3 linked regions of the Homo sapiens genome follow. The protein of the gene in region 2 purifies or fractionates together with the protein of the main gene of each other region. This does not show direct contact. Each region holds a gene or a part of one and is shown on either strand. Other genes may lie near its edges. The genes, in order: CYP51A1, PCDHGB5 and SPECC1.

Region 1 (3,753 bases), on a different chromosome or scaffold from region 2:
TCAGTTTAAATTCTTTCTCATCCTTTTTAGCCTGGGGTGATATTATCTACATTTTAGATGAACAGCAAATGTACAGATAATATAATAAAAAGATGACATTCTTTTCACATAAAACAACATGAATTATTAAAAATTCCAGGAGATTTTCAATACCACATTTTAGGAAAACAGTACTTGACTGATCACATAACTTTTCCAATTACTTTTTCTGAAAATATATATCTGGGTTAAATATATGGAAAGTTTGAATCATAAGATGGTAATCTAGTTTGGGAATATAGTAGAATATTCTGTTTGTCCCAAGAAAGCCCTAGTTAAAAGTCAATATGAAAACCTTCCAATCAAACCTCAAATGTCATTATAAATGTATGGAAGAAAATGAGATTTAATGAACCCAAAATAATATACTAAAAAGTCACACCCATGTAGAAACTGACAAGCTGATTCTAAAATGCATATAAAAATGCAAAGGACCTAGGATATCCAAAGCAATCTTGGAAAAAGAACTGAGTTGGAGGACATAAAACTGATTTCAAATCTGACTTCAAGACTAAAGATAAAACAGAGTGGTACTAGGTAAGGATCAACAAATAGATCAATGGAACAGAGCAGAGAGCCCAGAACAGAATATTTTTATGGTTATTTGATTATCAGTACAGACACCAAAGCAAGCCAATGAGGAAAAGCAAGTCTTTTCAACATAAGGTCCAGGAATAACTAGATATTACATGGGGGAAAAATGAAATTCAACTCCTATGTCACACCATAATCAAATACTAATTCAAGAAGGGTCACAAACCATGATGCTAACAGCATAAATTTCAGTAGAGAAGAACAGGAGAATATCTTCATGACTCAGGGGCTAAGCAAAAATTTTAAGACAGGGCCAGAAAGCAATAACCATTTAAAAGATTGATACATTGGACTAAACTAAAGGTTATTCATTTGTCAAAACTCAATGAATGTTGACTTAAGATTTGGGCATTTCATTGCAAGATTTTTCATCAAAAGAAAAAACCTAAACTGATAGTGCTTAGCACAGTGCTTGCTTGGCCCATAACTGTACTTATTTCTAGGAGTGACATTTAAGATGAGCATTTACAAATTGGTCCATATTTCAAATATAACAACTAAAGAGAAGCTTGGCTTACAGGAAGAATAGTCCAAGGATTTAATCGCAACAAGCAAGAAGTATCCTAATTGAATCAACATAAGAGTAGATAAATTCTGATGATTCACAAAATGTAATATTATGAAAATGAATGAACTATATGCACCAACATAAATAAACAGCACAATTACGAGGTAAAAGAATGAGTAAAGAAATTAGAGACATGTAATGTGATATTTAACAAGATTAACGTAAGATCATATATCCCCCCATAAATTCAAGTCCATCCAGAACCTTAGAATGTGATCTTAATTGGGAAATAGGATCTTTATATACACAATTATTTAAGATGAGATGACCCTGACTTAGGGTAGGACTTAGATCCAATGACTGGTGTCCTTATAAGAATGCCATGTTAAGATACAGAGACATGAACAAGAAGAAAGCCTGTTGAAGACAGGGGTAGTAATTGGAACAATGTAGTTACAAGCCAAGGGTTGCCAAGAGCCACCAGAAGCTAGGAAGATGCAAGGAAGGATTCTCCTGTAGAACCTTAAGGAGGAGCACGGTCCTGCCAATACCTTGATTTCACACTTCCAGCCTCCAAAACTGTGATAGAATATATTTCTATTGTTTTAAGCCACCCATATTGTAATTAGTTACAGAAGCCCTAGGAAACTAACACAAAGATTGAAAAAAAGATGGAGGAGACATTATATCTGTACTCAAATACCTCATACAATATAAGTTCAGAGACTATGGTTAGGACCAACTATAAATGAGATGTTAAAAAGAAACAGATTTCAGCTTTAACATAAGGCTCTAAAAATGACAGCTGTCCAAACATAGAATGAGCCATCATAAAAGGTAACTGAACAACCCACAACCCATTTCTAGTAAAGTTCAAGTGGAAACCAGATAATTACTAGTTTAGAAACGATTCCTCTTTGGGGCAGAATTTGGGCTACAGAACTAATGCTCTTCCCATCTGTTAACAATCTGATTCTTTGGCCAGGTGGCATGGCTCACGCCTGTAATCCCAGCACTGTGGGAGGCCAAGGTGGGCAGATTGCTTCAAGCCTGGAATTCGAGACCAGCCTGGCCAACATGGCAAAACCCAGTCTCTACTAAAAGCTCAAAAATTAGCTGAGCGTGGTGGTACACACCTGTAATCCCAGCTACTCAGGAGGCTAAGGCACGAGAATTACTTGAACCCAGAGGTGGAGGTTGCAGTGAGCTGAGAGATTGTGCCACTGCACTCCAGACTGGGTGACAGAGCAAGACTCTCTCAAAAAAAAAACTATGATTCTTTTATATATTGTGTTATACACCACAGTATTAAATTTATTACATAAAGTTAAGATCTGAAGTTCCCAAAGGACTTTATATTTTCCTTTATATGTGGAAAAAGTGTGACCAATGACAAGTCATCTGTCATTTAAATGATCCCTTTGGAAAGACTAAAGCATAGAATATAGTTTAATCAGTACAGAGAACCAATGGACAGAGAAATTACTGGAGAAACAAGGGTATAGCTAAATTATTTTAGGATCTTACTGGAAATGAAATTTGCAAGCCTACACACAACCTGCCCAAATTTAAAGACCATTTTCTCATACGGATATTCAGAGAGCAAAAATGTTGACTAACGATCGAGAAGAGCTTTAATTTTAAAAGACTGCCTTTGCTTTTTTGTGAAATGCTAGTAATCTGTTATTCCCTGAATGGTGTGCTGACTCCAATGGTTCTTTAAAAGAGAATCCACAAAGAGCTTTAAATACCATTGTAAGGGAAAACAAGGATGTTCTATAAAAATTAGACCTAATAAAACCAGACAGGTTAGGAAGTAGTGAAGCATTATATAAGGATTTATGGAACAATTCCATTTGGTACAAAGGAAATATTTTTCTCCAACTTATAAAGATTCTTCTCCTAAAAAAGTTTGCAAAAATGTCCCTATGAGGAAAGGGAGAGATAATTTGTAAACACAATTCGGAATATTTTGACAGAGACAAATATGTTATCAGAACAAACATTTCCAATCTAAAATATAATCATCTTACCAGCTCCAAATGGCACATAGGCAAACTTTTCCCCTGATGCTGGGTTATCCTGTAAGTAGCGATCAGGATTAAAGTCCAGGCGTTCTACCCATGAGTCTTTAAGTCTTTGATTGACAGTGGGAGAAACACACACCTGATGTCCTGGAGGAATGGTATACCCTGCCACAGTCTATAAACAAAAGCCACACATTTCATTAGAGAATTTAAAAATGTGCTGACAAATAATCAGATCATTGTGTAATAAAGCATGAATATACATGGGATACTCAGATGCTCCTTGACTTATGATAGGTTTACATCCTGATAAATCCATCATAAAGTCAAAAAATTATAAGTTGAATCACATAAATCAAGAACCATCTGTACATATATTTAAAAACTGGCTAGATAATAGGCAAACTAAAAATTATTTTAACTCAAGATGATTTCCAGTGAGCCAGCGTTGGGTTGGAAGTACACAGTACACAAATCAAACCCATAATGCCTTGGAGGTAGGGTTGGAATTTCAGAGAGGCTTTCACTATCAATTTGTACACTTCATATTAACAATTTTTTACAACAAAATGTTATTTTTAAAAC
Region 2 (3,753 bases):
TTTTAAAGCAAAGAAACTGCTAGTAGATGTCTTTCTTCACTGATTTCACTGGTAGTTTTCATCTCTTTCTTATGTTCCTCATATATGCTTTCTTATTCCTACCTAATGGATTTATGATTTTTTGAATCTCCTAAAATTTTATTAAAAATACTATATGTTGGCTGGGTGCAGTGGCTCATGCCTGTAATCCCAGCACTTTGGGAGGCCGAGGCGGTTGGATCACATGGTCAGGAGTTCAAGACCAGCCTGGGCAATATGGTGAAAACCCGTCTCTACTAAAAATACAAAAATTAGCTGGGTGTGGTGGCGGGCGCCTGTAATCCCAGCTACTCAGGAGGCTAAGACAGGAGAATTGCTTGAACCTGGCAGGTGGAGGTTGCGGTGAGCCGAGATCACTCCATTGCATTCCAGCCTGGGCAACAAGAGCAAAACTCCATCTCAAAAAAAAGGAAGGAGAAGGAGAGGAAGAAGAAGAAAAATACTACATGTTATGTGTATGAGAGAGAAAGAGAGAGACTGATTCACTGAACTTAGAAGGTCCAAATCATCCAAATAATTTTCTAAGTTTATCCAGGTTTTCTTGGATGCAAAATCCTTTTCCACCTCTATATAATTACCAGAAGAAACTTACAAAAAAAAGGAAATGCTATTGCCTGAATTTCTCTTGCTCGGAATCCTGACATATTCTTGAAGAAGGGGAAAAAGACACCGGATTTGTCTTATCGTTTGGAGCTTTAAATATAAATGACTGGATGTTTTCTCAACATCCTTGTAGGATGGAAGGTGAATACAGGATTATTCCATTTTTAAGACAAAAACTACTAGTCTTGTGTACATACAAAGCTCCCATTACATGGTATAAGTCTTTTGCTTGGTTTCCCTTAGTATGTGATTCAGTAAATGGGTTCCTTACAAAGTGCTGAGATTTCTTATAATACCACTTACTTTTAACCTTTCAGTAGTTTTCTTTGTTGTATATTTTGTGTTCTTTTTCCCAAATTATTATATAAGTTTAAGTGATGCTTAGAATAATGTTTAAGACCACTTTAAAATTGCATAATTTATTGATGAAGGATTAAAATAGAAACTTGCTTTTCAGTGTATATGCATTTGAATCATTGAAACACAGTCTGTGCATGCATTACATATTCACATTAAAAAACTAAGCATTTTTGAAATAGCAGAAAAGTTTAAGCAATTACAAAAATGTGAAAATTTCCAACTTTAATCCTGTTAATATTTAGCAATATTAGGCGAGAACATCTGTAACTATTGCTGAATTAATATTACTTTTATAATACAAAAATTTAAAATAAACGTTTTTCCAGGAATTTTATCATCAAAATAAACCCCAGAAAATAATTTCAAAGTGGATAATCTATCCTTATATATGTATTAATACAATTATATATTTTACATTTACAAATATATAGGTATAAAAATTAAAAATGAATGTACTTCCAAACAAGATTGCACATAAAAATTACTTCAGAAAATTGTTAAGATACACAGAAAAAATTGAAGCATCATAAAAAGGAAATTATAATAGTTTACATATCTAGAAATAGAGTGCAAAGTTCTACCAAGAATAAGAATAAATTAATATTAAGCAATGGTTTGTGATTTTATAATACACTTACAGAAATTTTATTCCACTTTATTTACAACTCAGATATCTAAAAAATAGATTGCTTTTGAAATACAAATGCAAGAAACAATTGGAGAAATCTAAAATCATAATTAGAAGAGAGTAGTGTTTTCTTTATCAGCCATCTGATATAATGTTACACATCAGTGGGTGTAGTAACGGCTTAGGACTCTGAGCGCCGCTGTTGATCAACTCTAAGCGAAAATCAGGACTCCATCCGGATTTCCAGTTCTGCGGCTACACAAAACCCGGCAGATACCACAAACCTGCTCCCAGGCTGCAGCAAAACTCAGCCTCTTTCTTCTAAGGAAAAGATCACCATACTTTGCAGGGTGGAAGAAAGAACCTGATGAAGCAGCGCGCACAGAGATCCTTTTGAGAAAATTCCAAAGCGAGGCAGCAATGGCAGCTCCAACCAAATGCCAGCTCCGCGGAAGATTAGTCCTGCTATGCTCGCTCCTGGGGATGCTATGGGAGGCCAGGGCCAGTCAGATTCGCTACTCAGTGCCTGAAGAGACAGAAAAGGGCTATATTGTGGGCAACATCTCCAAGGACCTGGCTCTGGAGCCCCGGGAGCTGGCGGAGCGCCGAGTCCGCATCGTCTCTAGAGGTAGGACGCAGCTTTTCTCTCTGAACCCGCGCAGCGGCACCTTGGTCACCGCGGGTAGGATAGACCGGGAGGAGCTCTGTGCTCAGAGCCCGCGGTGTCTGGTGAACTTTAAAGTCCTGGTTGAAGACAGAGTGAAACTGTACGGAATAGAAATAGAAGTAACTGATATTAACGACAGCGCCCCAAAGTTCCAGGCCGAAAGTCTGGAAGTAAAAATTAACGAAATCGCGGTTCCTGGAGCACGTTATCCACTTCCAGAAGCTATTGATCCGGATGTTGGCGTGAACTCCCTCCAGAGCTACCAGCTCAGCCCCAATCACCACTTCTCCCTGAACGTGCAGACTGGAGACAATGGAGCCATAAACCCAGAGCTGGTGCTGGAGCGCGCCCTGGACAGGGAGGAGGCAACTGCCCACCACCTGGTCCTCACGGCCTCGGATGGCGGCGAGCCGCGTCGCTCCAGCACAGTGCGCATCCATGTGACAGTGTTGGATACAAATGATAATGCCCCGGTTTTTGCTCAACGGATTTACCGAGTTAAAGTCCTTGAGAACGTGCCCCCAGGCACCTGGCTGCTTACTGCAACAGCCAGCGACCTGGATGAGGGAATCAACGGAAAAGTGGCATACAAATTCTGGAAAATTAATGAAAAACAATCTCTGCTATTCCAGCTTAATGAAAATACTGGGGAAATATCAACAGCAAAAAGTCTAGATTATGAAGAATGTTCATTTTATGAAATGGAAATACAAGCTGAAGATGGTGGGGGATTGAAAGGGTGGACAAAAGTGCTCATTTCGGTGGAAGATGTAAATGACAATAGACCTGAAGTGACCATTACATCTCTGTTTAGCCCAGTGAGAGAAGACGCACCTCAGGGAACAGTAATTCTTCTTTTCAATGCTCATGACCGAGACTCCGGGAAGAATGGTCAAGTTGTCTGTTCTATCCAGGAGAATCTATCTTTTACATTAGAAAATTCAGAAGAAGATTATTACAGATTGTTGACGGCCCAAATTCTTGACCGAGAAAAAGCCTCAGAATATAATATCACGGTGACTGCAACAGACAGAGGAACTCCGCCCCTGTCCACAGAAATTCACATCACCCTGCAAGTGACTGACATCAATGATAATCCACCTGCTTTCTCTCAAGCCTCCTACTCAGTCTACCTCCCGGAAAACAACGCCAGAGGTACTTCCATCTTCTCCGTGATTGCCTATGACCCTGATAGCAATGAGAATTCTAGAGTTATTTACTCCTTGGCAGAGGATACCATCCAAGGGTCTCCTCTCTCCACCTATGTCTCTATTAACTCAGACACTGGTGTGCTGTATGCTCTGTGCTCCTTTGACTATGAGCAGTTTAGAGATTTGCAAATGCAGGTGACGGCAAGTGACAGTGGAAGCCCACCACTTAGCAGCAATGTGTCATTGAGACTGTTTGTTTTGGACCAGAATGACAATGCCCCAGAAATCCTGTACCCTGCCCTCCC
Region 3 (3,753 bases), on a different chromosome or scaffold from region 2:
TTCCTTCTTTTTAACCTAAAGAGAGCAGGATACAGACAAAAATGGGGGAGTTTGGCCACAGTCATTGGCAACTTGGGCTCCCAGTGGAGAGGGGCTGGTATGGCCCCAGCGGGGAGGGAGGGACACCGCAACGCCATTGCTCAGAGCTGGTTCTAGATGATTTACACGTAATCACTCAAAATAGAGCCAATCACAGGCCAGGTGTGGTGGCTCACTCCTGAGTGAGCTGAAATCGCGCCACTGGCACTCCAGCCTGGGCGACAGAGCAAGACTCTGTCTCAAAAAAAAAAACAAACAAACAACAACAAAAAAAACACAAAAAAACAGCCGGGCTCAGTGGCTCATGCCTGTAATCCCAGCACTTTGGGAGGCTGAGGCAGGCAGATCACCTTGCCATCAGGAGTTCGAGACCAGCCGGGCCAACATGGTGAAACCCCCTCTTTACTAAAAATACAAAAACATTAGCTGGGTGTGGTGATGGGCACCTGTAATCCCAGCCACATGGGAGGCTGAGGCAGGAGAATCGCTTAAACACGGGCGGCGGAGGTTGCAGTGAGCTGAGACGGTGCTATTGCCCTCCAGCCTGGGCAATAAGGATGAAACTCCATCTCAAAATAAATAAGTAAAAATAAAAAACAGAACCAATCACAGAAAACACCCACTCCCACTCCGGGTATCCCAAGACAGCAACTGCCTCCCCACATAAAACCCTGGACTAATTCCAGCTTAAATCTAACAACCAACAGCTCAACTCAACTACTTGGGATATTACTTTCCCCCACTTTAATGGTGGGCAAAGAAGAAGTACAGGGTTAATAAAAAAAAAATGCTTCAAACAAGTGCCTGAATCAGCAGAAGTAGTAACTTTCAGGTTGAATTGGTTCTATGTGTCGAGTTTCATTTAAATACAAAGGCATGGGTGATGTAATGACCATCGCCCAACAGCTGCTCAGGAGCTCCCGCAGGCTGCCTGCCTTGTGGCTGCCAGGGGAAGGTGTCCACCCCTCAGTGGTTCTCCAAGCAGCTGTGCTTCAGTCGCCTAAAGAACTTACAAAACATGTGAACTGCATCTCTGGTCCCATTCCAGACATTCTGAAGTTAACCAACTAGGGCAGCCAAGAGTGTTTTCAAAAGGGTCCACTGTAGGTTCTGATGCAGAGCTGCAGCTGGGATGCACTAACAGGGGGGCGGAGTTCTTGTCTCAAGGTGGCTTGAGAATCAGGGATCTGCTGACCCGTGCAGCCCAGTTGCCACCTCTGCAAAGGTCTGGCTTGGAGGAAGGGACTGAGCTCCTACCTCTCCAGGAATGGTAAGGGGCTGGACCTGCAGCCTCTAGAACCTGGCTCTGAACCAGTGGCTCAGATCAGCAATCAGAGATGTACTTTGAATAGTAATGGCAGTCACTGTCATTCTCGGTGACTCACTGGAAGGATGATCCTTTGTTGGAGGGGCGCTAACACGCTATTTGGCACTTAAAACAGCAAGGGATGGGCATTACCCATTTCCCTCAAACAACTGTGTGAGCCACGCCCTCACTCGCTGTGTAGTGCACACAGATCCGCCCAGAAGAACACGGCAGAGCCACCAGATGGGCACTCGGGCCGGACTGAGCACTTCTGAGGGACTGGGGCACCGCTGGGGAGGGCTCTGCTGCCACTTAAGGTGACCAGTAGGATGCTGGGGCAACTGCATTCTTCTTTGTTAGTTATAAATGTGCCCTCACCGCCCACCCCTAAGGGCTTTTCCCATGCCGATGAAAGAGGCCTGGGGAAGCACTAAAGGCCAAATCAGTCCAGAGCCGAAATACTGTTGGGATTTGCTGTCAGCCCAGCATCCCCAGAGGCACACACCCTCAGCCTGCTCAACCCTGTAAAGCAGACACAGGCCATTCACACATGTGACCTCCTGTCAAGTTCTGTGGGGTACAAGCCTGTGTGGATGTGAACGGGAGGGTAAACGAATGGGAGGACAAAGGCGCAGGTGACGAGGACTGCGGTTTCCCTACTGTGAAAGCCGCGAGCTGCTCAGGAGCACACAGACTTTGGTGGCAGAGGTGTGGGGCACCTCCCAGGGACTCCAGCAAAGCAGCCAGGGGCTCCCTTGCATTCTCACAGGCTTTCCTTTTGCTACAATAAATCAAATAAGGGATGGTGAGAGCTAAAAGTGAATCAAGTTCCAGGTGTTAACATTGTTACCTAGAACTCCCATTTTTCCCCAAAAGGCTGAGTGCGCACGCACGTTTCCAGGTTGCCCTGGAACAAATGTTTATTTTTTGTGTTTTGTTGTTTTTTTTTGGGGGGGGAGGGGGGAAGGGAGGGTTCACAAGGGCAAAGTTTTGGGTTTTATCATTTTTTTGAGACAGGGTCTGGCTCTTTCACACAGGCTGGAGTGCAGTGGTATGCTCATAGCTCACTGCAGCCTCGAACTCCTGGGCTCAAACGATCCTACTGCCTTGGCTTCCTAAAGTGCTGGGATTACAGCCACGAGCTACCACACCCAGCCAAGGGCAAAGGTTTCATAAAGGCAAAGCCGGGATATTTTTAACAACAGCAACCAAAAGACTGATTTGGAGATGTTCTTTGTCTGAATTTCTGCAGATAATGTGTTCGTTCAGCCACCCAATATAATCAGCAAAACAAGCCTGGGTGTGGGGTCTTGGTCTGGAAGGAGGGAGGCTGCCCTCTTTAGAAGCATCCCACAAGAGATCAAAGAGTCCCCAATTTACAGTCCAGCTGCATTTGCATTTCAGACAGGTACATCGTGGGACCCACTCTGTTTCTTATTTGGGTGTTGGTCCACTTGGATTGAGCCTGTCTTTGAAGTCTAGGCAGCTGGGTGGTGGGCAGAGCAGGGTCAGTGGACAGTAATCAGGCGCTTCCAGGAAAAGCTGCAGTAGGTGGCAATGGTGGCTGCCCCAGGCCCTCCAGGGTTACGTCTCAAAGTACTTGTAGATTTGGGCCACGTACTGCATCACACTCTGCCAGTCGGGCCGGTCTGTGTACAGCATCTCGCTGAGTTCCTGCAGGGGAAGGGAATGGGGGACAGATCACAAGGCAGGACATCACAGACCCCTTCCCCTCAAGGACTTCAGTCCAGGTTAGGGCTTACACTGCCTGGAAACCCTCCACTTACACAGACAGAACGTGAAGGCCAGCACAGGTGGTGCTGAAAGCGATGAGTTAAAGGACTTTTCCTCCCACTTATTCAGGAGATACTGTCCCTTTCCAAAAACGGAAAACATGACCTCCCACTGCTTTTATCTTTTAACCATATGACAGCATTTAAACAAGTTTTAAAAAGCAAAAATCACCCATAATTTCACTATTAAAATGATTTCCAAGTTTCTAAATTACATTTGAATCCACCTCTAATTCCCCAGACTCCCAGCACACTGCACGCGCTATTACGTGGGCTGTGCCATTACGTGGGCTGAGCATTTCACACCCGGGTCCCCGTGCTGCTGTGCCACTGTGCGGGCTGCCATTCTAGTGAATGTGCACTCACCAGGGAAACTGCTGTCCACAAGGGACATGGCATCCAGTGTACGCTCACCTCGTGACCACCACAGACTCTGCAATCAGCATCTTTGTGCAGTATTGTTTCCTTCTGTCGAACTAGTCCCTCAAGATAAATTACTGAGTGGGATTATCACAAAAGCCTTGAACCAATTTCAAATGCAACCATTTATTTTACCAGCATTGTTACTACTTAATGTGTTTTTTTGTTTGTTTGTTATTTAATACAGTTTGGTGA

The links.
Region 1: the proteins of PCDHGB5 (region 2) and CYP51A1 purify together in Homo sapiens (co-immunoprecipitation; 2 studies listed by BioGRID and IntAct, with this or other methods). This does not show direct contact.
Region 3: the proteins of PCDHGB5 (region 2) and SPECC1 purify together in Homo sapiens (co-immunoprecipitation; 2 studies listed by BioGRID and IntAct, with this or other methods). This does not show direct contact.

The regions. Positions count from the first base shown.
Region 1 is NC_000007.14:92,113,870-92,117,622, forward strand, and holds part of CYP51A1 (lanosterol 14-alpha demethylase), read right to left. Parts: intron 3,344-3,753; coding exon 3,175-3,343; intron 1-3,174. UniProt on the Homo sapiens protein: Sterol 14alpha-demethylase that plays a critical role in the cholesterol biosynthesis pathway, being cholesterol the major sterol component in mammalian membranes as well as a precursor for bile acid and steroid hormone synthesis.
Region 2 is NC_000005.10:141,400,903-141,404,655, forward strand, and holds part of PCDHGB5 (protocadherin gamma-B5 isoform 1 precursor), read left to right. Parts: intron 1-1,875; exon of another isoform or gene 1,876-2,050; coding exon of another isoform or gene 2,051-3,753. Other genes in the region: PCDHGA9 (protocadherin gamma-A9 isoform 1 precursor), read left to right, coding at 2,051-3,753. UniProt on the Homo sapiens protein: Potential calcium-dependent cell-adhesion protein. May be involved in the establishment and maintenance of specific neuronal connections in the brain.
Region 3 is NC_000017.11:20,313,242-20,316,994, reverse strand, and holds part of SPECC1 (cytospin-B), read right to left. Parts: intron 3,020-3,753; coding exon 2,930-3,019; 3' UTR 1-2,929.